7 linked regions of the Homo sapiens genome follow. The protein of the gene in region 1 purifies or fractionates together with the protein of each later gene. This does not show direct contact. Each region holds a gene or a part of one and is shown in the gene's direction. Other genes may lie near its edges.

What was found.
Region 2: the proteins of PDGFRA (region 1) and DSG2 purify together in Homo sapiens (affinity purification with mass spectrometry; one large-scale study listed by BioGRID and IntAct). This does not show direct contact.
Region 3: the proteins of PDGFRA (region 1) and BMP8B purify together in Homo sapiens (affinity purification with mass spectrometry; one large-scale study listed by BioGRID and IntAct). This does not show direct contact.
Region 4: the proteins of PDGFRA (region 1) and SEMA4G purify together in Homo sapiens (affinity purification with mass spectrometry; one large-scale study listed by BioGRID and IntAct). This does not show direct contact.
Region 5: the proteins of PDGFRA (region 1) and GALNT12 purify together in Homo sapiens (affinity purification with mass spectrometry; one large-scale study listed by BioGRID and IntAct). This does not show direct contact.
Region 6: the proteins of PDGFRA (region 1) and ITGA8 purify together in Homo sapiens (affinity purification with mass spectrometry; one large-scale study listed by BioGRID and IntAct). This does not show direct contact.
Region 7: the proteins of PDGFRA (region 1) and SEMA3D purify together in Homo sapiens (affinity purification with mass spectrometry; one large-scale study listed by BioGRID and IntAct). This does not show direct contact.

The regions. Positions count from the first base shown.
Region 1 is NC_000004.12:54,267,293-54,270,792, forward strand, and holds part of PDGFRA (platelet-derived growth factor receptor alpha isoform 1 precursor), read left to right. Parts: coding exon 1-168; intron 169-259; coding exon 260-449; intron 450-3,340; coding exon 3,341-3,456; intron 3,457-3,500. UniProt on the Homo sapiens protein: Tyrosine-protein kinase that acts as a cell-surface receptor for PDGFA, PDGFB and PDGFC and plays an essential role in the regulation of embryonic development, cell proliferation, survival and chemotaxis.
Region 2 is NC_000018.10:31,518,677-31,522,176, forward strand, and holds part of DSG2 (desmoglein-2 preproprotein), read left to right. Parts: intron 1-1,126; coding exon 1,127-1,261; intron 1,262-2,126; coding exon 2,127-2,288; intron 2,289-2,422; coding exon 2,423-2,567; intron 2,568-3,406; coding exon 3,407-3,500.
Region 3 is NC_000001.11:39,786,066-39,790,061, reverse strand, and holds the start of BMP8B (bone morphogenetic protein 8B preproprotein), read left to right. Parts: upstream 1-1,196; 5' UTR 1,197-1,576; coding exon 1,577-1,910; intron 1,911-3,996.
Region 4 is NC_000010.11:100,976,004-100,979,503, forward strand, and holds part of SEMA4G (semaphorin-4G isoform 1 precursor), read left to right. Parts: intron 1-1,628; coding exon 1,629-1,727; intron 1,728-1,816; exon of another isoform or gene 1,817-2,291; coding exon 2,292-2,385; exon of another isoform or gene 2,386-2,523; coding exon 2,524-2,637; exon of another isoform or gene 2,638-2,814; coding exon of another isoform or gene 2,815-2,845; coding exon 2,846-3,015; exon of another isoform or gene 3,016-3,098; coding exon 3,099-3,268; coding exon of another isoform or gene 3,269-3,369; intron 3,370-3,500. Other genes in the region: MRPL43 (large ribosomal subunit protein mL43), read right to left, coding at 2,815-3,008. UniProt on the Homo sapiens protein: Cell surface receptor for PLXNB2. May play a role in axon guidance.
Region 5 is NC_000009.12:98,814,170-98,817,669, forward strand, and holds part of GALNT12 (polypeptide N-acetylgalactosaminyltransferase 12), read left to right. Parts: intron 1-3,500. UniProt on the Homo sapiens protein: Catalyzes the initial reaction in O-linked oligosaccharide biosynthesis, the transfer of an N-acetyl-D-galactosamine residue to a serine or threonine residue on the protein receptor.
Region 6 is NC_000010.11:15,517,423-15,520,922, reverse strand, and holds part of ITGA8 (integrin alpha-8 isoform 1 preproprotein), read left to right. Parts: intron 1-1,510; coding exon 1,511-1,633; intron 1,634-3,500. UniProt on the Homo sapiens protein: Integrin alpha-8/beta-1 functions in the genesis of kidney and probably of other organs by regulating the recruitment of mesenchymal cells into epithelial structures.
Region 7 is NC_000007.14:85,177,057-85,180,556, reverse strand, and holds part of SEMA3D (semaphorin-3D precursor), read left to right. Parts: intron 1-3,500.

The DNA.
Region 1 (3,500 bases):
GCAAAGGCATCACAATGCTGGAAGAAATCAAAGTCCCATCCATCAAATTGGTGTACACTTTGACGGTCCCCGAGGCCACGGTGAAAGACAGTGGAGATTACGAATGTGCTGCCCGCCAGGCTACCAGGGAGGTCAAAGAAATGAAGAAAGTCACTATTTCTGTCCATGGTACATTCCGCTTTCTAAAATGTCAGTTGTCCATGCTGCTCGGGATCCATATGTGGTAATCATTATTTAATGGAAACTCTTCCCTGTACAGAGAAAGGTTTCATTGAAATCAAACCCACCTTCAGCCAGTTGGAAGCTGTCAACCTGCATGAAGTCAAACATTTTGTTGTAGAGGTGCGGGCCTACCCACCTCCCAGGATATCCTGGCTGAAAAACAATCTGACTCTGATTGAAAATCTCACTGAGATCACCACTGATGTGGAAAAGATTCAGGAAATAAGGTAAAGAAACTCTCTGCCCAAGTATGCCTTTTTTTAGTGTGCATCAGAGGCGGACTGAGGTTTGTGTGTGTCTTACAACCCAGACCCAAAGTCAGTCTAGAAAATGTAACAATCTGAGTTAAGAGATGCTTGAAATCACATCCCTTTAATGATAACATTGCAAAGTGGTATTAGTATGCTGGTAAGTATTTAATGAGAAGATGAGAAGAAAGAACTAAAAGCTCTGGCCCCTGGGGAAAGACAGGTCACTGGATTCAGCTAGGGTGGAAGAAAGGAAGTAAAATTGGACTCACCAGGATTGAATAGATTGAATATATTCCCTGATGTTCATCATCCATATCGCAAGTAGACAGATATGGTGATTACACCCATGAGGCAGTTATCACATCACCTTACGTGAAAGTTAACGTCATAGGCTTAATCTGGAACCCATTTGCCCTAATTGAGGACTCCACAGGAAAGAAGAGTAGAGCCTGGCTAATCAGGAGAGAGATGTGCAGTGAGTTGCTTGGATCCCTACCTTTTAATCAGAATGGTAGATTGCTCTCATCTCTTAATTGGTGGTGGAGTTTTGAATGAGTCACCCCTCAGCCACAGTTTCCTCATCTACAATGTAGGATAAACAATACCTTATGTCCTTCAAGGCAAGGAATTGGATCAGATGATATCATGAGGCCTCTTAAGGTTTTAAGCTGTGATTAGAACCCAAGAGTCAGAAGATACATCTCACAGCACCCAGCTAACCAGCCCTATACTTTTGTCAGAAATCATCTCAGAAAGACAAAGTCAGTCCTGTATTTCAAGCCTTCAGGAGGAAGAACAGAGCCTTTCTCATCAGTTCCATTCACCTCAGGATTTGCTTTCTTCTTTGTGAACTAAATTCCACGTGTAATTGAGAAGCAATGTCTGAGAAAATGGAATTTTACAGCCTCTATAGAATAGTAAAGGAAAAATGAAGTGGGATACTGAATCTGGAAGGCTTTCTGTTGACACAAAATGAAGGTGTACAACAAGGAGGGCAGCTTTCCACGAGGAACTTCCATGAGGCTGTGCAGCCAGAGAGGAATAGGGTAACAACCCTGGTACAGCTAACACCTCCAACACGTGTGTGAGCACTGTCTGCAAGCCATAATCCATAGCAGTGGCAGGACAGGCTCGCCAACTGAGTGGTTCTGGAAAGCTGCCTTTTCCTTTTAGTGATTCAAGGATGCTTCAACGTGGATTTTTTAGTTCCTGTTATGAGCCAGTGAATACAAAGATGAACATGGTAGATGGGGGATCTGGCTTCCTGGAGCTTAAAACTCCAGGATGGGGGATCTGGCTTTCCTGGAGCAAGAAAACCAGTGGTTTTCTTGGCCGAAGAAGTGAAGAGAACAAACAGCAGAGGATAATTTGGTAATCAGCATCCTAGTGTGCCCCAGGGTACTCTCTTAAGGAAATCCAGTCCTGGAGCACACCCAGTATGGTCCAGCCTGCTGTCTTCGTAGGTCTGAGTGCCCCAGTATTTGCAAAGTGTTTTGGAGCCTATGAAATGCTTTCACACATACAATCTCCTTTAATTAACTCTCACAATGACTCTGTGCTATGTGTACAATTATCACGTTTTACACACAAGGAAACTGAGGCATGGAGCATTGTAATAATACCCGAGATCTTCTCACTCCATGACCAATGCTTTTCTTCTCCATTCCAGTTGCTTTTTCAACTGTGATGATTTATAAAGGACAATCAAATGGGCACATACTATATTTATGCACATACATACACACACACACACACACACACACACACACAACCAGATGTCATTTATAATCCATGTAAAATATTTTTGGGGAAGTTTCTCTTTAATAAAGTTTGAAGAGACATATATTTTTTTTTTTTGAAGAGGCATATTTTTTCTAACTTTTTTTTTTTTTTTTGAGATGGAGTCTTGCTCTGTCACCCAGGCTGGAGTGCAGCGGTACGATCACGGCTCACTGCAACCTCCGCCTCCTGGGTTCAAGCGATTCTTCAGCTTCAGCCTCCTGAGTAGCTGGGATTACAGGCATGTGCCACCATGCCTGGCTAATTTTTTTTTTTTTGTATTTTTAGTAGAGATGGGGGTTTCACCATGTTTGTGAGGCTGGTCTCGAACTCCTGACCTCAAGTGATTCACCTACCTTGGCCTCCCAAAGTGCTGGGATTACAGGTGTGAGTCATCACACCCAGCCTATAACTTTTTTTTAATAGGTGATAGAATCCCGTGCTTGAAAAATAATCAAACAAAAAGAGAATGCATTGTAAGAAGCCTCACTGTACTCCTGTCCCCAGCTGCCCAGTTCTCCCCTCCTCCCCACAGGGAAACATCTTCATTAGTTTCATTAGGTTCTTATGAAACCTTCCAGAGTTTCTTTAAGCAAAATACAAGCAAGTAGGACTGTCATATCCTGCAGACCGCTACATACAAATACATAGAAAGTGTCCTCATTCTATCCTCCAGTGATATTCCATTTTTTGGCTGAACCACCTAAATGATGGATATTTAGGGGAAGCAAGTATTTTTTAAAAAAGGTAAAAATCAAAGGTTTTTATTTTTTATTTTTTTAAAGAAAAGTTGGTAGGCTGTGTTTATTCATTCAGAAGTCAGGCCGTGGCTGAACTGATAGCTCTTGGAGATGGCCATTGCTCATCTCTGAATGTCTGGTTTTCTCTTGTAAGAATTGTGTGTATGATCCAGACCTTCAGTGTGTGCACTATATATTGAGAATTCCAGAAGAGATGATATGGACAAGAAAAAAAGATGACTTTACTTTTTACAGTAAAAATAAAACTTAAATTGAAGAGTACAATTGTTTAAACAATTGGAACTTACTTAGCTACTGCTTGTTGAAACAAAATCCTTTTTTTAAAAGGTATCGAAGCAAATTAAAGCTGATCCGTGCTAAGGAAGAAGACAGTGGCCATTATACTATTGTAGCTCAAAATGAAGATGCTGTGAAGAGCTATACTTTTGAACTGTTAACTCAAGGTATGTAAAGGGAGTATAAAGATAATGCTAGCTCTGTAGATGAG
Region 2 (3,500 bases), on another chromosome or scaffold:
AAATGAAAAAGTAATTTCAATTTTTTGTCATAGAAAATTTTGTTCAAGTAAAAAAAAAAATCAATGACCTAGTGATAACCAGAGTACATATTTTGAAGTAAAATACCTATTACATAGAGCAACAAAATGAGTAAAATGATAAACCAAACCTAGTATAAGGATTATTTCTGATCTTAAGATCCCAGGTCAGCTGTATTGAAATTTCCCTTGGATAAAATATATATTCACCTGTAAAACCCAACTGGAAATTTATAGAATGGTTTTCTGCCTAAGGTTCTGAAAATGAAATGGGAAATTTAATTCTTTACCCAATCCTGAAAACAATAAATTCATTAACTGGCAGTTTCCCTGGTTTTAGTCAAGTTTATATCAATAGATTACTAAGATTTAGCCTTAAAAAACATTTAGTAATTTATTTTTAAACCACAAACCACCACAGAAAAATGAAACTTCATTTTCAGTTAATAAGAAAAAACGTTTTTGACATGATCTGTTATTTTTTACTTTGCCAATTTGTAAGGCTACTAAATGATTCTTTAAACTTTTCAAACTCTCACTCTGGGAAATCATTTCTTACAGTTAAAAACAAAATTCTACTGTCTGGGCACAGTGGCTCACACTTGTAATCCCAGCACTTTGGGAGACTGAGGCGGGCGGATTGCTTGAGGCTTGAGTCTAGGAGTTCAAGGCCAGCTTAGGCAACATGGTGAAACCCCATAGCTACTAAAAATACAAAAATTAGCCAGATGTGGTGGTGCATGCCTGTAATCCCAGCTTCTTAGGAGGCTGAGGCAGGAAGATGGCTTGATCCGGGGAAGTCAAGGCTACAGTGAGCCAAGATCATGCCACTGCACTCCAGCCTGGGTGACAAAGCAAGACCCTGTCTCAAAAGAAAAAATAAACCAGAAAAAACCCTACACTTTTACTAGCTTGGAGACAATCTCTTGAGGCCCTATGCAGTTTGCTAGAATATATATATTCCCTTTTAGACAATGAAGCCTCATAGGAAATACGAAGCATACCTTAAAATTTGCACTATTTAAAAGTTTATTATGTTATAGGACAGCATACTAATGTTCTATATTTATGACACATAATAAATTTTGGCAATATTCTATTGTTATAGGTCTTAAGCACAAGAAATGAAAATAAGCTGCTTCCTAAACATCCTCATTTAGTGCGGCAAAAGCGCGCCTGGATCACCGCCCCCGTGGCTCTTCGGGAGGGAGAGGATCTGTCCAAGAAGAATCCAATTGCCAAGGTACCTCCTAAAGAGGAACATGAAATACATGCATATGACTAAAATGTGGTGTGAGAGGACTTTTATGTCTACTTTAAGATTTAAGGAAAATGTATGATGTGCTTACAGAATTTTTAAATATTCAAGATATATCTGAAAATTAGCAGAGCTTACTTTTTAGCATAAAGTATCAACTTTAAGATTCTCTTTCCCATTCCGGAAGATGCAGCATCATTGGCAAAAATATAGATAACTTTGAGTTTTGATTTAACTAAGAGTAAAGGGATTTGGCACTGGTAACACAAAATGTTCAGTGCTCAAAAGAGGATGTCATAAAATGTCATTTTCAAGATGAACTGGTGTCTATTACTAGGTAGGGGGACCATCTTCATCTGCCTGAGACAGTCGTGGTTTATGCCTGCTCTCCTGGCTTAATAATTAATATCTGTGTTTTCACTCTCAAGGGGTCCAATTTTTTTGATAAATTATGTGATAGTGTTGCTACTCTATATTTCAAAGTTGGCATGCACAAACATAAACCCTTCATTTTTTTCCCCCCAAAGCTTTTCTTCATAAGTTCTACCCATTTTGGTAATTGATGCTATAATTCTCTCCAGTTTTTCAAGCCAAAAATGTACCACACACTATCAGTTCTATTCCAAAAATATATTCCAAATCTGCTGCTTCTCTTCAACTCCACTGCCATTCCCCTAGTCCAAGTCATGTCATCTCTGGCCTGTATTACCAAAGAACTTCAGAAGGAAATTGTCCATAAAAATATTTACCTGTAAATTATAGAGAATCACTTCTTAGGCTTTTGGCTAAGATCAAATCTAGTAAATTACAGAGAGTTCAACCTGAAACATTCCTGTTATTTTTATGTTAGATACATTCTGATCTTGCAGAAGAAAGAGGACTCAAAATTACTTACAAATACACTGGAAAAGGGATTACAGAGCCACCTTTTGGTATATTTGTCTTTAACAAAGATACTGGAGAACTGAATGTTACCAGCATTCTTGATCGAGAAGAAACACCATTTTTTCTGGTAAGAAGAATAATTTTAGATTTATTAGTTTGTAGTTTTTCTGTCATAATAAGTGTCATTTGTTTTATTTTTTCATAGTATGGTAATTTAGTTTTCTTAGCTTAAATCTAATCTTATTTATGTCATGATTTCAGCTAACAGGTTACGCTTTGGATGCAAGAGGAAACAATGTAGAGAAACCCTTAGAGCTACGCATTAAGGTTCTTGATATCAATGACAACGAACCAGTGTTCACACAGGATGTCTTTGTTGGGTCTGTTGAAGAGTTGAGTGCAGCACGTAAGAGTCTTTTTTTTTTTTTTTAATAAATAAATACCTAAGATTACTTTATCCCCACTGTAAATAAACACTAAATTTCATATCTTAATGAAAGTTGAGTATTACCTACAGAACAAATGATAAGAAAGCAGTTCAGAACTGCTTTCCTTATAGGTTTAAAGGACTTTACATGCCATTGCTTTTACCCTCAGAACAGATAGGGTAGATTAATGTGATGGATAAGGTCTCTGTAGCAACTACTCAACTCTGCTATCTGCAGGAAAGCACCATAGACAATATGTAAACAAATGAGCCTAGCTGTGGTCCAATAAAACTTCATTTACAAAAACAGGTGGCTGGTTAGCTTTGGCCCTACAGCTTTGGCTATAGTTTGCTGACCTGTAAGTTGTATTATTTTTACTGTAATATTTATTCACAACATTGTTCAACACAGTGCTCTTCATGAGGACCCGAATGAGAGATTTCTTTTTGACCATGATGTAAGGAATAGTTACGCTTCTCCTGATTTGTTTGTATCTTAATAGATATCAGGATCATGTACCTGCTCATGTTACTTTCTTTGTATTGGCTACTAATACTATTATAAACAAATCTGTGCCCTTATACAGCAATTTTTCAGGACTCTACCCTCAGCCTTGCCTTCATCTTGTTTTTACTATTGTTATATCCCATTCACGCTTATGTCCTCATCCAGTTAAATGTTATATTGTGGTCAACTGTATGTGATTTTGATAAGCACCTGAAATCTTTTTTGGAACAAGCTAAAATTATAAATAAAATAACAGGTAAATATGCTTAAAGTTGAATTTCATCTTAGACATCTTTATTTCTAATGCCAGATACTCTTGTGATGAAAATCAATGCAACAGATGCAGATGAGCCCAATACCCTGAATTCGAAAATTTCCTATAGAATCGTATCTCTGGAGCCTGC
Region 3 (3,996 bases), on another chromosome or scaffold:
TAATCACTGGTGCCCAGGGCCCTCGTCTAGCCCCTGTGAGGCCCTTTGCAGTCCCTCCCTTGCCAGCCCCTCCAGCCTCCGCCATTTGCCCCGTGGGCTCTCCAGGTTCCACTTGAGGAGCTGCCCCCTGCCCCAGCCCAGCTCTACTGCTGTGTGACCTAGCGTAAGTCCCTTAACCGCTGTGTGCCTCAGTTTCCTCATTTGTTAAAAGAGGAGGTTCCAGTGGTAGGTACCCCCTGACGATGTGCAAGCATCACAGAAATGACACAAGACACACACTGAGAACATGCCTCGCGCGTGGCAAGTGCTGACTGTTACCTGCCATTATTAGGCTCCCCCGCCGGGGTCTCAGGGCCTTGGCACAAGCTCTTCCCTCTGCTTGGAGCACTTTCCTCCACTGACCTTTCCTGGCGCTCCAGGTCAACTCCAGGAGCCTTCCCAGTACAGTCTAGGTGCCTTCTCCTTCCGCAGCGCCTGAACCACACAGGAATAAGTAAGGCGAGAGCGCGCCCAGAGAAGAGCAGAGAGTGCAGAAAGGGGCTGAGTTAGTAGAGGCATTTCCGCGGGGATCCTTCTCCTGCCAGGCCTGCACCGGGGCCGTGGCGACTGAGAAGTGCACAGGTGGCTCCCGGGTGCTCCAGAAGGGCCCCAGAGCTCCTGGCCCGGCTAAAGGCAGGAGGCGGGTGCGCGTCTCCCCCGCGAAGCTGGATCAGTACTGGGGGCGCAGGGGGCGCACGCCGCGCAGCGAGGGCTGGCGGGGGCGGCCTGCCTGGGGCGCTGCCCAGGCTCACGCGGGAGCCAGGTGGGGGCGCGGGGAGGAGCAGCTGAGCAGGTGCCGGGAAGGAGGCGCCTGCAGCATGCCATGGCGACCCGCGCACGCGACGGCGGGGCGGCCGGGTGGCACCACTGGCGGGACCGGAAGGGCGCCGCGGCCCTAGGATCTCTGCGCCGAGGCCCGCGGCGGAAGCCACGACGGCCATGACCACGCTGACGCCCAGGCTGCGAGCCCCTCGCCCGGGCCGCCTGCCCACCCGCCACGCCCAGGTAGCACCTCGGGGTCTCCCCACCCGCGACACCGGCCGCAGCCCCGGGCCCCCTCGCAGGCGTGGCCCCCGCTCCCAGGCCCCGCCCCCGCCCCCCCATTGGTCAGTCCCGGGGTGGGGGCGGGCGACGCGGACCGCTGGGCAGGGCAGGGCAGGGACTCGCGGGAACCGCACCAAGCGGGTGGCTGCAGGAGCTCGCCCATCGCCCCTGCGCTGCTCGGACCGCGGCCACAGCCGGACTGGCGGGTACGGCGGCGACAGACGGATTGGCCGAGAGTCCCAGTCCGCAGAGTAGCCCCGGCCTCGAGGCGGTGGCGTCCGCGTCCTCTCGTCCAGGAGCCAGGACAGGTGTCGCGCGGCGGGCGCTCCAGGGACCGCGCTGAGGCCGCGGTCGCCGCCCGTCCCGCCCCGCCCCGCCGCCCGCCGCCCGCCGAGCCCAGCCTCCTTGCCGTCGGGGCGTCCCCAGGCCCTGGGTCGGCCGCGGAGCCGATGCGCGCCCGCTGAGCGCCCCAGCTGAGCGCCCCCGGCCTGCCATGACCGCGCTCCCCGGCCCGCTCTGGCTCCTGGGCCTGGCGCTATGCGCGCTGGGCGGGGGCGGCCCCGGCCTGCGACCCCCGCCCGGCTGTCCCCAGCGACGTCTGGGCGCGCGCGAGCGCCGGGACGTGCAGCGCGAGATCCTGGCGGTGCTCGGGCTGCCTGGGCGGCCCCGGCCCCGCGCGCCACCCGCCGCCTCCCGGCTGCCCGCGTCCGCGCCGCTCTTCATGCTGGACCTGTACCACGCCATGGCCGGCGACGACGACGAGGACGGCGCGCCCGCGGAGCGGCGCCTGGGCCGCGCCGACCTGGTCATGAGCTTCGTTAACATGGGTGAGTGCGGCCGCCCGCGCGGGGACCCTCGGAGTAAGCTGGCTGCAGGGGAGGGGCGCGCATCCGCGGGCTGTGCCGGGCCCTGGCCGAACGGGGAGTCACAGACGGTGGACGCGAACCACAGGGGAGTGGGACCGCCGTGGTTAGGGAAGGTCTAAGGGTCATGGGGGCCCCCTGGGCTGCGGGGTGGTCAGGAGCAGAGTGTGGGGGACTGTGGACTCCCAGGCGCTGCCTTCACCCTGCCCCAAACACACCCAGGAGTAAGAATCAGGTGATGTCTTTGCCCACCTGGGCTGCCCCGGGAAGACAGCCTGGTCCTGGGGAGACAGGTGAGTAAACAGAGGCCGGGATGCTGTCACTGTGATAAGGGCAGTACTGAGGAGAGGGACAAAGTTCAGCGTGGAAACCTGTGGTCACATCGGAGTGACCAGAGCTGAGTCGCGTGCCCTGAGTCCACAGCAGGCTCTTCTCTGTGCGGAGCCTGGGTGGGGTGCGGCTGTCAGGGGGGCGGCTGGGGAAGGAGCAAACTCAGCTCGCTGGGGCAGGGACTGTTGCCTTGTCACCCTGGGCCCAACACCTGGGATGTGATCTGGTATGGGGTGAGTGTCCAGTCCTGTGGAATGGTCCAGTGGGCAGCTGGACCCACTTTGTTCTCCCAGGCAAAGCCCGGCTTTTCCTGTCTGCAAATATCTTGTATCAAACCCTGGAGCTATTTATTCCCTAAGATCTCAGAGATTTTTTTTCCAGTACTAAACTCTTTGGTCTATGGTCATGTAGTTACTATTGGTCAGGTCACCCATCTGCTTTGCCTCCTGTCTGTGGCTAGTGACAGTCTGGGGTCTGGGGAACCAAGGACCACAGATCAGCCCAAAGTCGGGGAGCTGTGGGGCTGAGAGGAGGGAGAGGGTCCCTGGCCCCGGCCATCAGCCTCCCTCCACAGACAGCATCATTAATTCTTCATCCTCCCGACAACCCTGATAACAGCCACGGTCTTCATCCCCATCTCCCAGATGAGGACAGTGAGGCTCAGAGAGGCAGCGCCATGCCTAGGACAGCGCAGCCTCTACGCTGCTGAGCCAGGACAGGCCCAGGAAGCCTGACTGTCCATCCAGGGCTCAAAGAGATGACATTTCTGTTGTCAGGTCAGGCTTTCAAGGTGCAGAGACCTTTCTGAGGAGTCTGGGCTGAGGAAAACAGGGGACTGAGCCGCAGCAGGTTTTGTGGGGCCATCAGCCATTTGCTTCCTACACTAGGACAGAAGAGGGCATGGCCAAGCCTCTGCTTCCCGCAACCCAGAGCTGGTGGTGGAGGCGAGCAGCAGGAGGCAGCCATTCACCATCACTGAGCGCCCAGTGCCAGGGACAGGACTCTAGCCGGTGGGATCTGGATGCTGCCTTTGTAGTTAGAGGACAGGGTGGGGATGTGGGACAGAGGAGACCATCTGTGAAGCTGGGGCTGGGGCTCTGTCATCAGGACAGGCTGACACTGGGCTCAGGACCAAGAAGAGTTGTGGATGGAGTCGTCCAAGAATGTCCCCAGGGAGCCGCCCATCAGAATGCGTCACCACCCAGCCCACATCCGACCTCCCCTGGCATCCCCTGGGTCAAGGCATGCACAGCCTGGTGGGGCTATTGCTATGAATTGGGCAGGGCCTACCCCTCTGTGTGACCTTAGGAAAGTTCCTCACCCTCTCAGCCTTCGTTGCTCCTTGTAAAATGAGGTGCCTGGTGATCTGTCCTCAGGGTTGTTGTGTGATTGGTAGAGGGGCAGGAGTAGAAAGCCTGTGCTGCTCCCCTCAGAGGGTGAACCTGGACCTGGGCACTGTTGGCCCCAGGCCCTCCCAGCTGTGGCCTAGTTCGGAGGTGACAGGAACATCTCCACATGTCTTATACACATGTAAAACCTAGAAATGGATTCTAAAAGCCAATCAAAAAGTGTTTGTACCTGTTTTTAGAATGAAAAGTAGCATGTGAACTTTCACAGCCTTACAATTCCTCATTTAACTCATGTGAGACTGTTTTGCCAGCCCTGTTTCATGGGCTCAGAGAGGTTAAATAGCCAGCCCAGGGCCACACCGCACATCCGG
Region 4 (3,500 bases), on another chromosome or scaffold:
AGGCAGGAAAAGCAGTGAGGAGGCTGGGGGCATCATTTGGGTCAGAGGAAGGGGCCTGAGCAGGCTTATGGAGACGGGGGACAGATGGTAGTGGCTTGTACCAGGTGAGGGAGCAGGAGGAGACACAAAGAGGCCTGTATGGATTTAAACCCTGGGTAACAGGCAAGAGGAGGAATCATTAACGTGGCAAAGGAGTCAAGAGGCTGGCAGCTGAGGGCATTTGACAGGCAGAGAAGACCAGTGTGGCTGGAGTAGGGTGAGTGAGACCAGAGGAATGGGCAGAGTCCCATCACACAGGGCTAGGAGCATGTGGGACTCTATATTCAGGTCACTGATGAGCCGATACAGTGGTGTGATCCACTTGACTTTTTTTCAGACATGGTCTCACTCTGTTGCCCAGGCTGGAGTGCAGTGGTTCACTGCAGCCTCGACCTCCTGGGCTCAAACAATTCTCTTGCCTAAGCCTCCCAAGTAGCTAGGACTACAGGTGCATGCCACCACATAGAGATGAGGTCTTGCTATATTGTCCAGGCTGGTCTTGGACTCCTGGGCTCCAGTGATCCTCCCACCTCAGCCTCCCAAAGTGCTGGGATTACAGGTGTGAGCCACCACACCTGGCTAGGTTTACATTTTTAGAATATCCCTTGGAAAGTGGTTGGAGAGTAGCAAAAGTGTGTTGTTTGGTAAAATATCTCTGGAAGGAAACTTCAGACAATAGTAACAGCAGTCTTCTTGGCAGGCAACCTGGGAGACAGGGATAAATGGGAGACTCCCTGTTTATAACATACCCCTTTGTACTTTCTAAGTTTTATACTATGTACATGTATTCATTGACTGAATAAATAGCTTTATAAAGTCGTTTTTATAAAAGAGAAGGTTGGGAGGAGCTATCAGGTAGCAACTGCAGATGTCTAAGGAAGAGGTCATGGTGGTCATTTGGACTGGGTGCTGGTGGTGGAGTCAAAGTGGACCAAGTCAAGAGACTTTTAGGACAATGAATTAATTGTGGAGAGGGACTGAATGTGGGGGTGAGGAAGTAGGAAGCAGCAAGGATGATCCCTGGCTTCTAGGTTGAGTCGTAGGTTGGATGAAGTGAGGTGGGAAAGACTGGATAAACAGGTTTAGGAAAGATGTAGGTTATGGAGGAGGGGATGAACTTGGCTTCTGACAAGGTGAGTTTGAAACATCCCTGGGATATCGGGTGGAGAGCAAGCTGGCATCTAGGGATAGATTTGGTTGTATCACCCCAGCGAGGAGGGCAGGAGTTCCAAGAATAGAAAGAGGTGCTGAGAAGGAGCTGGATGGGAGAGGAGAAGCACCTCAGGATGGTGGAATCCCTGGGAGCTCTTGAACCAGAGGTGGAGGGAACTGCAAGAGACACAGGAGATATTGGCAGAATGGTGTCAGGTAATCTGAGGGACAGAGGAGAGAAATAGGGTCATGTTACTGGGAGGCCAAGGACAGTGAGTTCCAGGAAATATTCTGGAGCAGTGAGAAGGATCACAGGTATCTTGGAAAGAACCGTTTGTCCTGTGGGTGGGGGCAAGAGCCAAACTACAAAGCTAGACTAATGGAGGAGGCTTCTAGTCAGGCAGGGGGCTCACAGCCCTCTCCACCTCATCCCACAGACGGAGTGCTTTAACCATGTGCGGTTCCTGCAGCGGCTCAATTCTACCCACCTCTATGCATGTGGGACTCACGCCTTCCAGCCCCTCTGTGCAGCCATTGTGAGTATACCTGTGTTGTGCCAGATCTCTGTTGACTTCATTAGGGATGGGATCATGTTCAAGATGCCAAAGAAGAGACTCAGAGCCAGTGAAGGAGACGGATGGTTTATTAAGGGGACTTCCATACAGGGCACTCCAGTGGCGGCGGGCTGCACTGGAGAACCATTCCCCTTTGTAAAAACCATGCAGTTTTTATAGCATTTTCACTTAGCATCCTCCCCCTAATCACCTCCACCTGGCAAACTTCATTTAACCCAAAACAAAGGGCCTTGATCCCCTGGACAGCATGTGTTCCACAGGATGGGCTAGGGGCTCAGATGTTCTTCATAGATAAGGAGTGAATCTCTAGGTTGGCCACTTGCAGATTTGGAACTCCAAACATACATTGTTTTGAGGCCATAAGGTCATTCTCAGGGGATGCTTAAGTTATTGCTGTCAGGTGCATCTGCCATACAACCTGCCCCTATCCCTGATCGCTGATCCCTGACCCCAGACTGATCTGACTTTGAGCCACTGTCCCTGCCTGTCTTCGGAACCACTTACTGCTGGTTCCTTGTTCCCTAGGATGCTGAGGCCTTCACCTTGCCAACCAGCTTCGAGGAGGGGAAGGAGAAGTGTCCTTATGACCCAGCCCGTGGCTTCACAGGCCTCATCATTGGTGAGCAGGCCTTCTTCCCTATCACAGACATGGTATTTTTAGGATGTGGATCTCATCTCTAGGACCTGCCACCATGTATATGTCATGTGCCCTGTTGAATATGACATGTCTCTCATGCCTGGAATATCCCCACGCCAGATGGAGGCCTCTACACAGCCACTAGGTATGAATTCCGGAGCATTCCTGACATCCGCCGGAGCCGCCACCCACACTCCCTGAGAACTGAGGAGACACCAATGCATTGGCTCAATGGTTAGGAGGATGAGGCACAGGATGATGGGGGGTAGGGGACTATTTCTTCATTTTTACTCCCTTGGCCAGCTGACCACCCCACCCCCAAATCCCCAGGTGAGCCTGTCCATTCCATTCCTGTGTGTTGTCAAGTGAGGGGTCAGCCTCAGAGTGAGGGAAAGGAATCCCCAGCCTGTCTCAAAAGCCTCTCAAACTGCCTGACCCACAGATGCGGAGTTTGTGTTCTCCGTCCTCGTGCGGGAGAGCAAGGCCAGTGCAGTGGGTGATGATGACAAGGTGTACTACTTCTTCACGGAGCGTGCCACTGAGGAGGGCTCTGGCAGCTTCACTCAGAGCCGCAGCAGTCACCGTGTGGCCCGTGTGGCTCGTGTCTGCAAGGTGGATTGGGCTGACGTTGGGGCACGGGTATAGAGGCTGGACCTCTGACCCTGGCCCCTTATCCCGTGCCTCTACCTCCCCAGGGAGACCTGGGAGGGAAGAAGATCCTGCAGAAGAAGTGGACTTCCTTCCTGAAAGCCCGTCTCATCTGCCACATTCCACTGTATGAGACACTGCGTGGGGTCTGCAGCCTGGATGCTGAAACCTCAAGCCGTACACACTTCTATGCAGCCTTCACGCTGAGCACACAGTGGTCAGTGCAGGGACAATCGGGAGGCAAGAAACTGCGGACAGCATAGGGGCTGGAGCAGAGGTCAATGAGGATGAGATAGGATCCACTGTGGGGAGGTCTGGCTGCAAAGTGAGAATTTTTTTTTTTTTTTAAGAGGGAGTCTTGCTCTGTTGCCAGGCTGGAGTGCAGTGGCGCGATCTCGGCTCACTGCAATCTCCGCCTCCCGGGTTCAAGTGATTATCCTGCCTCGGCC
Region 5 (3,500 bases), on another chromosome or scaffold:
CTGTGTGTATATGCATGTGCTTGTGTATGTTCAGCCCTCCACAAACCACATAGACTGAGAATTGGAAAAGGTTGGCTCTTGAAAGGGAAATCAAGATGCAGTGTACAGTGAAGAAAGGAGAAAGGATTCTAGGCAGGTAAGACACAAAAATGTACATCACGATCTCCTTGGCCTTTTCTACAGAGGATATGATTTGATTTTTTTTAAAAGACATTTATGTGATAACCTTAATATAAAGATAAAAGAAGATCAGGAGGGGCTGGGTGCAGTGGGTCATGCCTGTAATCCCAGAACTTTAGGAGGCCAAGGAGGGCGGATCACTTGAGGTCAGGAGTTCGAGACCAGCCCTGTCCAAAATGGCGAAACCACGTCTTTACTAAAAATACAAAAATTAGCCAGGCATGGTGGCGGACACCTGTAATCCCAGCTACTTGGGAGGCTGAGGCAGGAGAATTGCCTGAACCTGGGAGGCAGAGGTGGCAGTGAGCCAAGATCCCACCACTGCACTCCAGCCTGGGTGAAAAAAAAAAAAAGGAAGATCAAGAGGCATTTACTGTATCCATTAATTCATTCATATCCATATAATAAGTAAATATTCTACCAGCAGAGATTATTGTAGTCCCTACCCAGTAGGGTTGTTAGGAAGGCTACATGAAGTAATGTGTATAAAATGCTTATATGGTGCCTCTCCTGTATTAAGCACTCAACAAATGGTACTGTTACTACCAGGTAAAGTACAAGGCGTGCTGAAAATACAGAGACAAACACAGCTCAGTCTCTGCCCTTACAAAGCACATGCAATATACCAGAAACTTAGGGAAATGATTGTGTGCTGTGATGTAGCATTAAATCCAGTTCTGAGCTTCCTTTTGTCCTCAAGGCAAAAGTGGAACCTTAAAGTGATCCATAGCTGTCTTTGTATGATCAAAAGATGCACAGCTTTTTATTAGTCAGGAAAAGGAGAAAGTGTTTTTTTCTGGAAGCAAACTTAAAGACATTTCAAAAAGATATACAGACGATCTCCGATTTAAGATCGTTTGACTTAAGATTTTTCAACTCTATCATAGTACCCATTGCAACCAACCTGGTTTTCACTTTTGGTACATATTTGGTAAATTATATGAGGTATCCAATACTTTATTATACAGTAGATTTGTGTTAGATGATTTTGCCCAACTATAGACTAATGGAAGTGTTCTGAGCACATTTAAGATAGACTAGGCTAGGCTGTGGTGTTCAGTAGGTTAGGTGTATTAAATGCATTTTCTACTTAGAATGTTTTCAACTTACGATGAGTTTATTGGGATGTAACCCCACCGTAAGTCAAGGGGCATTGGTATTGAACCTCATAAAACAGAATGCCTTTAGGAGATGTTTTCAAAAAAGAAACAGAAACTATACCAGGACAAGAAAAAGAGAAAGGGCAGAGTATTAAATTATTGCTCAATGAAGGCATTTGCTGTGAGGAACTAAAGAAATATGATCTAATCTTTTAAAAATAATATTTCTTTGTGATTATAAAAATTATAGATGTTCATTTTAGGACAATTTTAGAATGCACAAAAATATAAAAAGTAAGAATCAGCAATAATCTCACTTCTTAGAGATCACCATTGATAACATTTTGGCATATTTCTTTCTATTGTTTATTGTTTATGCGTGAACGCGCTCACATACACGTTGTTGTTTCTAGAATTGGCTATCTGTAGATTTCTATCCTGCCTTTTTGATTTAACATTATAGTGTGACCATTCTCCTTTATCATTAAATATTCTCTAAAAAATGTTATTTTGTTGTTTTACGTGGTGCCTCTCATGTAGTAAACACTCAACAAAGGGTACTGTTATTACCAGGTAAAGTACAAGGCGTGCTGAAAATACATGGCCATGATTTCCTCATGCAGCCATACTATACTATATTTTCTTCTTGTTCGACATTGAAATTGTTTGCAGCTTTTTGCTATTATAAATAATGTTACAAAGAAAAATTTTTACAACAAGCCTCCTTCAGGGTATTCTGACTATTTACTTAGGCAAGAAATGTTTATGTATGTTGATATGAGATCAAAGAAAAGAGGAACATTTTAAAGCTCTGAATATTAATTGAAAAATTGGCACCCAGCCTTCTTGTGATTTAGATGGCACAAATGAAGAGCCCACCTAGACATTCTAGAATGGTGGCCCTAGGCTATTGGTTTTAGTGGAAACACATTAAAAAAAGAAAAAAAAAAAAAAAGCAGGGCTGACAAGAGAAGAAATAAATTTTCATCCAAAATACTAAGGATGTGATTTCAGACTAAAGGATTGTTCTCTACATTGAATGCACCTCACTTTGAAAACCTCACTTCACCGTCCTTATTGTCAATTATTTCTCTTGAACTTGTGCATGTTTGAAACAAAGTTTTAGCAGCATCTTAAGAAAAAATATTTATTTTAGGTTTCACAGAAACACTTTTGTTTTTCATGTAGTGTAAGCAATTAACTTTTTTTTTTTTTTTTTGAGTCAGGATCTGGCTCTGTCACCCAGGCTGGAGTGCAATGGCGCCATCTCAGCTCACTGCCACCCCCGCCTCCCTGACTCAAACCATCCTTCCACCTCAGCCTCCTGAGTAGCTGGGACTACAGGTGTGTGCCACCATGTCCAGCTAATTTTTTTTTTTTTTTTTTTTTTTGAGACACAGTCTTGCTCTGTTGCCCAGGCTGGAGTGCAGTGGCCCCTGATCTCGGCTCACTGCAAGCTCTGCCTTCCGGGTTCATGCCATTCTCCTGCCTCAGCCTCCCAAGTAGCTGGGACTACAGGCACCAGCCACCACGCCTGGCTAATTTTTTGTATTTTTTTAGTAGAGACGGGGTTTCACCTTGTTAGCCAGGATGGTCTTGATCTCCTGACCTCGTGATTCACCCGCCTCGGCCTCCCGAAGTGCTGGGATTACAGGCGTGGGCCACTGTGCCCAGCCCAGCTAATTTTTGTATTTTTGGTAGAGACAGGTTTTTGCCATGTTGCCCAGGCTGATCTCCAACTCCTGGGCTCAAGCGATCCTCCCACCTTGGCCTCTCAAAATGCTGGGATTACAGGTGTGAGCTACCGCGCCTAGCCTCGCGGTTAATTCTTTCTGAGGCTCCTGGTGAGCTACAACTCAACACAATCTAGCTTTTCTATGCATCTTGTCTAGTATTCAGGGGCTTAATAATGAAGACGCAGTTATTAATATTTTTATAATACACACACATATGTTTTCCATTTGCTATAACATGTATTTGTTGGAGGGGGGATGTTTCTTTTTGTTTTTTTGTTTTGTTTTGTTTGTTTTTGAGATGGAGTTTTGCTCTTGTTGCCCAGGCTGGAGTGCAATGGCGCGATCTTGGCTCACTGCAACCTCCGCCTCCCAGGTTCAAGTGATTCTCCTGCCTCAGCCTCCGGAGTAGCTGGGACTACAGGTGCCCACCACCACGTTCTGCTAATTTTTGTATTTTTAGTAGAGACGGGGTTTCACTATGTTG
Region 6 (3,500 bases), on another chromosome or scaffold:
AAATCTCAGAGCCGCCAACCTTAGTCATTAGTCTCAGCCTCTCCTGACGGGTGGGTTATAGAATGTGTCCTGGAGTTCTTGAGTGTGTTTCAGGATTGAAATGATCCTTTCAACCAACACAATTAAAACTAGGAGACCTTAGACCAGCTGAGTGGAGGCAATGCTTGCCACTCTGATAAAACCGGAATACTACGTTAGTGAATAATGTCTGCATCCAAGAATAATGTAGCGCTCTTTTCTTTGACAAAAGGTTTTAGCAGCATGGCTGGGTCTCTCCTTGGGAATCTGCAGCTTCTTTGCTGCCTCGGCCTCCGGAGGCACAGGCCTCCAACACAGGAGCAATAGAAGTGCTTCTGCCCACATAGGGAGTGGTTCATAGACACTGAGCATGCAGTCAGATTGGGAAGGTCTCATTTTCCTCTAAGCCCCCTTGCAACAGTGCGGGATGAAATGGGCTCCAGTCCCCATATGATCTTTGTTTTTGTGTTTTTGTTTTTTGGCGGGAAGGAGAAAGAAGAGTGTCACCCTGTTGCCTAGGCTGGAGTGCAGTGGCATGATCTTGGCTCACTACAACCTCCACCTCCCAGGTTCAAGCAATTTTCGTGTGTCAGCCTCCTGAGTAGCTGGGATTACAGGTGTGCGCCACCACACCCAGCTAATTTTTTGTATCTTTAGTGGAGATGGGGTTTCACCATGTTGCCAAGTCTGGTCTCGACCTCCTGAGCTCAGGCAATCCACCCACCTTGGCCTCCCAAAGTGCTAGGATTACAGGCATGAGCCACCGCTCTGGCCTGATCTTTGGATTTAGGATTAAAGTCATCTCCAACGCATCAAAAAAAATTGAACATTCACTTTGCACACTACAGTTACTTCCATAAAATACAAGATGCCTAGCCTCATGCTCTGGGATATCCTTCACTGATACAGCACAGAATCTAGGGATAAAGAGACCTAGTATTGACACTAATTCGTTGTGTGAATGAATCACTTAGTCCCTCTGGGAGTTAATTTTCTCACCTGTAAAATGAGGGGATTAGATTAGAGATTTCTACCCTTCTTGCACATCCAAGGATTCATGGTTGTTCACAAGCTTACCTCTCTCAATGAGGCTAGCTGAGTTCTAAGGAGACACATGGTAGACAGATTCATTCAGTTTTTTATTGAGTCTACTTTTGGCCATTGTTCCCATAAAAGTTCCAGCCCAAGTGAAGGCCATTCCTTTCCACCTTGTCAATTCCTGATGCACTCAATTCTATTCTAGGGTTTCTGTGATGCAAAGCCACCCACCCACCAAATCTCTAATTAGACTTTTACAGAACCAAGCAGATCTAGGAACATGCTAGCTTTTAAGAGTTCATGTTCGAGTGCTACCTCTCAAATATCCCCTAGATGATTTCAATTGTCATATGGATCCTTTCAGATCAACTTCCGATGTTGTACTGGTAATTACTATTTTATTTCACCAAATAGTTTTCGCATTAGAGCTCATTTGCTTTGTTTTCCATTTCAGATTAAGACATCAGTTATTTGGGCAACTCCGAATGTTTCCTTCTCAATCCCATTATGGGTAATAATACTAGCAATACTTCTTGGATTGTTGGTTCTCGCCATTTTAACCTTAGCTTTATGGAAGGTAAGTTGATTTACTTTGTTTTCCTTTTAAACTAGAGGGGCTGTTGAGGGAATTTAGAGGGATACAGTTAGGGATTTTAAAAGACAATTATGGAGGCATTTTTGGAAATTTTGAACAGTCTGAAGGATATAAAGGGAAAATCGTGTCTTGTTTGCTTTGGCATACTTAATATGTTTATATAGCTGACATTTAAGATGACTAGAGGTGCTTAATGTTGCTTTCATCTTGAGATTTCTTGTAAATAAATGTAGAGAGAGTTAGGCTGTATTAACTAAGGCCTGTGATCTTCTTTCCAATATGCTTAGAGTGATAATATTCTAATGAAGACTTCTTTTTCTTGTTTAATTAACCAAGATCATAAGCTTTTTATTGACATGGCCCTATCATCAATCCTTTGACATTTTTTATAAGCACTATGCAAATGCAATTAATATAGGTCAATTCTGATTTTTAATTTCAACTACTAATGAGGCCAAATAGATTATGCATGTGATAGGATGCCTGGACTTGGTTTTTAATCTTGCCAATTAGTTTGTCTCCACTGGGAAGCCTGAACTTAGTCTTTGATGTGTTTTACTGAGGTTTGTTCTAAAAGTCCACAACAGGAATTAATTTCTGGCCCACCAACCTAAACAATTGCCAAGTTTCACAGAGCCTTCCATTCCCAAATGGAAATGACGTCCCAGTTACATAAGAGTAATTAACCCAGTCACATCTTTGATAACTATGTGGTTTTCCCTAAAATCATAGTGCGCTTTTATTTTGAAACAATATGCAGCATGACTAATAGACCTATAAACTGAGAAAACCTTGGCTTTGAGTTAAGGAATGGCGTTTCTGATCGTTATCAGCTCTTTGTGACATCCTACACCCATGTGGTCTATGACATGCCTTTAGAATGGACTTTTGTGTTGTTCTGTCACTCATAGTAACTGTATTTCCAATGAGTATAAGATACAACCATGTGTGCCAATTGACAGGATATTCCAGTAGCTCTGAGAAAGAGAGATGACTCAATGTCTCTAAGCCAAACCCAGTTAATTGGCTTCCAACATGAGAAACAGAAGAAAGAATTGAGGTTCCAGGTGTCTAGGAAAATATGTAGTTTACTTGGCAAAGTACTAATTTGACACTGAAGAGGAGGAAAATCCTAGAGTCACCTCTTCCCTGAGTTTCTGGCTAACCTTTGGAAAGTCACTAAGATTCTGTGCCTACCTGGTTCTGGCATTGAAATAAGTGACAAATCTATTCTCCCTCTATATATGCTCTATGTTCCACCAAGCACCGAGGGATGTGTGGCCATCTCTTCACTTCTTTCTATAATCCACCCCAAAGCAGCTGACAGGATACTTTAGGAGACAATCTCCTTTTCCTAGTCAATAGTTAGTGCTTCTGCTCCAGTAAGCATGTGGGAAATCCTTGGGACACATTGCTGTGATCTCAGGAAAATATCCAAGGTCCATAAGTGGTTTGTATGAAAGAGGGACATCTTCCACTCCAACTACAGGACAGGAGAAAGGGTGTGAGCACTCTGCCCTCCTGCTCACCTTGCCTATGCAATAAACTCCTCTCTACAAGTAACAAACACTCTGCTCGAACCTCCTAATTTGGAGAAACAGACTGATTATACGTGCAGAGCTCCAGGCTCCTTCGAAAATACATAAAGGGCCAGGTGTGGTGGCTCACGCCTGTAATCCCAGCACTTTGGGAAGCTGAGACAGGTGGATCACTTGTGGTCAGGAGTTCAACACCAGCCTGGCCAACATGGCAAAACCCCATCTCTCCTACAAATACAAAAATTAGCTGGGTGTGGTGGTGCAGGCCTGTAATCCCAGCTACTCCGGAGGCTGAGGCAGGAGAATCGCTT
Region 7 (3,500 bases), on another chromosome or scaffold:
ATTCAAAAAAATGAAGTCTATCTTAAATGTTATATTTAAATTATATAGTGGAAAACTTTACTAATAGTGAACCATTCTCTGGTGTCAATAAGATTAATGCATGTATTAGTCATTTTCACACTGCTATGAAGACATATCCAAGATTGAGTAATTTATAAAGGAAAGAGGTTTAGTTGACTGACAGTTCCACATGGCTGGGGAGGCCTCAGGAAACTTATAATCATAGTGGAAGGGGAAGCAAACATGTCCTTCTTCACATGGCAGCAGGAGAGAGAAGTGCAGGGGAAAGAGGGAAAAAACACTTATAAAACCCTTATGTCTTGTGAGAACTCACTCACTATCATAAGAACAGCATGGGAAAACTGCTCCCATGACCTAGTCACCTCACATGAGGTCCCTCTCCCAACACATAGGGATTATAATTCAGATTACAATTCAACATAAGATTTAGGTGGGGACACAGAGCCAAATCATATCATTCTGACCCTGACCCCTCTCAAATGTCATCTTTATCAAATTTCAAAACACAATTATGCTTTTCCAACAGTTCCCCAAAGTCTTAACTCATTTCAGCATTAACTCAAAAGTCCAAGTCCGGCTGGGTGCGATGGCTCATGCCTGTAATCCCAGCACTTTGGGAGGCTGAGGCAGGTGGATCACGAGGTCAGGAGATCAAGACCATCTTGGCTAACACGGTGAAACCCCATCTCTACTAAAAATACAAAAAATTAGCCAGGCACAGTGGCGGGCGCCTGTAATCCCAGCTACTCAGGAGGCTGAGGCAGGAGAATGGTGTGAGCCCAGGAGGCGGAGCTTGCAGTGAGCCGAGATAGCACCACTGCAGTCCGGCCTGGGCAAAAGAGCGAGATTCCGTCTCAAAAAAAAAAAAAAAAAGTTCAAGTCCATAGTCTCATCTGAGACAAAGCAAGTCTCTTCCAGATATGCACCTGGAAAATCAAAAGCAAGTTAGTTACTTCAAAATATAATTGGGGTACAGGCATTGGGGAAATGCACCCATTCCAAAAGGGGAAATTGGCCAAAACGAAGAAGCTACAGGCCCCATGCAAGTCTAAAATTCAATAAAGTAGTCATTAAACCTTAAAGTTCCAAAATGATCTCCTTTGACTCCATGTCTCATATCCAGGTTATGCTGATACAAGAGGTGTGCTCTCAAAGCCTGGGGAAGCTCTGCTCCTGTGGCTTTGCAAGGTACAGCCCCACTCCTGGCTGCTTTCACAGGTCAGCATTGAGTGTCTGCGGCTTTTCCAGCACAGTGCAAGCTGTCAGTGGATCTACCATTCTGGAGTCTTGAGGATGGTGGCCCTCTTCTCACAGCTCCACTATGCAGTGCCCCTACAGGAGGCTCTGGCCACTACTCCATTACTTTGTGAGGGCTCTCACCCCACATTTCCCTTCTGTACTTCCCTAGCAGAGGTTCTCCATGAGGGCTCTTCTCCTGCAGCAGACTTCTGCCAGGACATCCATGCATTTCCATACATCCTGTGAAATCTAGGCAGAGTTTCCCAAATCTCATTCTTGACTTCTTTGCACCTGCAGGACCAACACCACATGGAAGCTGCCAAGACTTAGGTTGCACCCTCTTAAGCAATGGCCTGAGCTGTAACTTGGCCCCTTTTAGCCACGGCTGGAGCACCTGGAACACAGGGCACCAAGTCCAAGGCTGCACACAGCAGGGAGGCCCTGGATCCAGCCCATGAAACGTTTTTCTTCTAGGCCTCCAGGCCTGTGACAGGAAGGGCTGCTGTGAAGTCTCTGACATGCCCTGGAGACATTTCCCCATTGTCTTCATGTTTAACATTTGGCTCCTAGTTACTTATGCAAATTTCTGCCACAGGCTTAAATTTTTCCTCAGAAAATGGGTTTTTCTTTTCTGTTACATCATCAGGAGGCAAATTTTCCAAATTTTTTTGCTCTGTTTACTCTTGAGCCCTTTGCCAGTTAGAAATTTTTTCTGCCAGATACCCTAAATCATCTCTCTCAAGTTCAAAGCTCCACAGATCTCTGGGGCTGAGGCAAAATGCCACCAGTCTCTTTGCTAAAACATAGCAAGAGACACCTTTATCCAGTTCCCAACACATTTCTCATCTCCATCTAAAACCACCTCAGCCTGCACTTCATTGTTCATATCATTATAAGCATTTTGGTCAAAACCATTCAACAAGTCTCAGAAGTTTCAGACTTTCTCACATCTTCCTGTCTTCTTCTGAGCCCTTCACACCATTCCAACCTCTGCCTGTTACCCAGTTCCAAAGTCGCTTCCACATTTTCAGGTATCTTTACAGCAGCACCACACTATCCAGTACTGATTTACTGTGTTAGCTTGTTTTCATGCTGCTGTGAAGAAATACCTGAGACTGGGTAATTTCTAAGGAAAGAGGTTTAATTGATTCACAGTTCCACATGGCTGGGTAGGCCTCAGGAAACTTACAATCATGGCAGAAGGGGAAGCAAACCTGTCCTTCTTCACATGGCAGCAGGAGATAGAAGTGCAGAGAGAAGTGGGGGAAAGCCCCTTATAATACCATCAGGTCTCATGAGAACTCACTCACTATCACGAGAACAGCATGGGGGAACTGCCCTCATGACCTAATCACCTCCCATGAGATCCCTTGCACAATGCATGGGTATTACAATTTGGATTACAATTCAAGATGAAATTTGGGTGGAACACAGAACCAGACCATATCAGTGCCTTTCAACTTAATGCTTATGTTTTCCTCTACTTCCATTTACCACCTTGCTGCCATTTTTTCTGTTTATAATAAATACTATCATAATAAATAAATACTGTAAATTAGCTGTTCTTGTAATTACTTATTTTTCTAATAAAATAACACATTTGAATTACTAAAAACATTCAGATTTCAAATTATGATTGTAATTATAGGCTCTCATGCAAAAAATGCTATTTATTAGTCATCTCTATAAATCAATCTTAAGCACTTAAAAAATATGTGCATTTTTTACATCTGTCTTTGCTATTTTAATGATATTGACAAGACACAACATCAGTGCCAGATGTTTTCAATTCCAGATGATGATTATGCTTCCAAGATTCTTGCCAAAATTACTGTGTGACTACTTACTCTTTTTTTCTCTTTCAATCTCAATAACATCTACCACATTAAGTGCCTGAAGAATCACTCTCCAACAAATGTTATATGTATAATATATATACCATGACTATTTTGAATATTAAATTATACCCAAGAGGCTTCTACCTCCCCCCAAAATAACTTTTAGAAGCTAAAACTTACATGTGTTCCACAATATAGAGTGGCCAGCAAATATGGCTACCATCTTACTATCTCCCTATTATATTTTACACATATATATGCATATCTATACACAGATACATCCATGTCTGAATACATGCACTATACAGTCATGTATCATTTAATGACAGGGATATGTTCTGAGGAATATGTTGTTAGGCAATTTTGTCATTGTGCAAACATCATAGAATGAACCTACGCAAA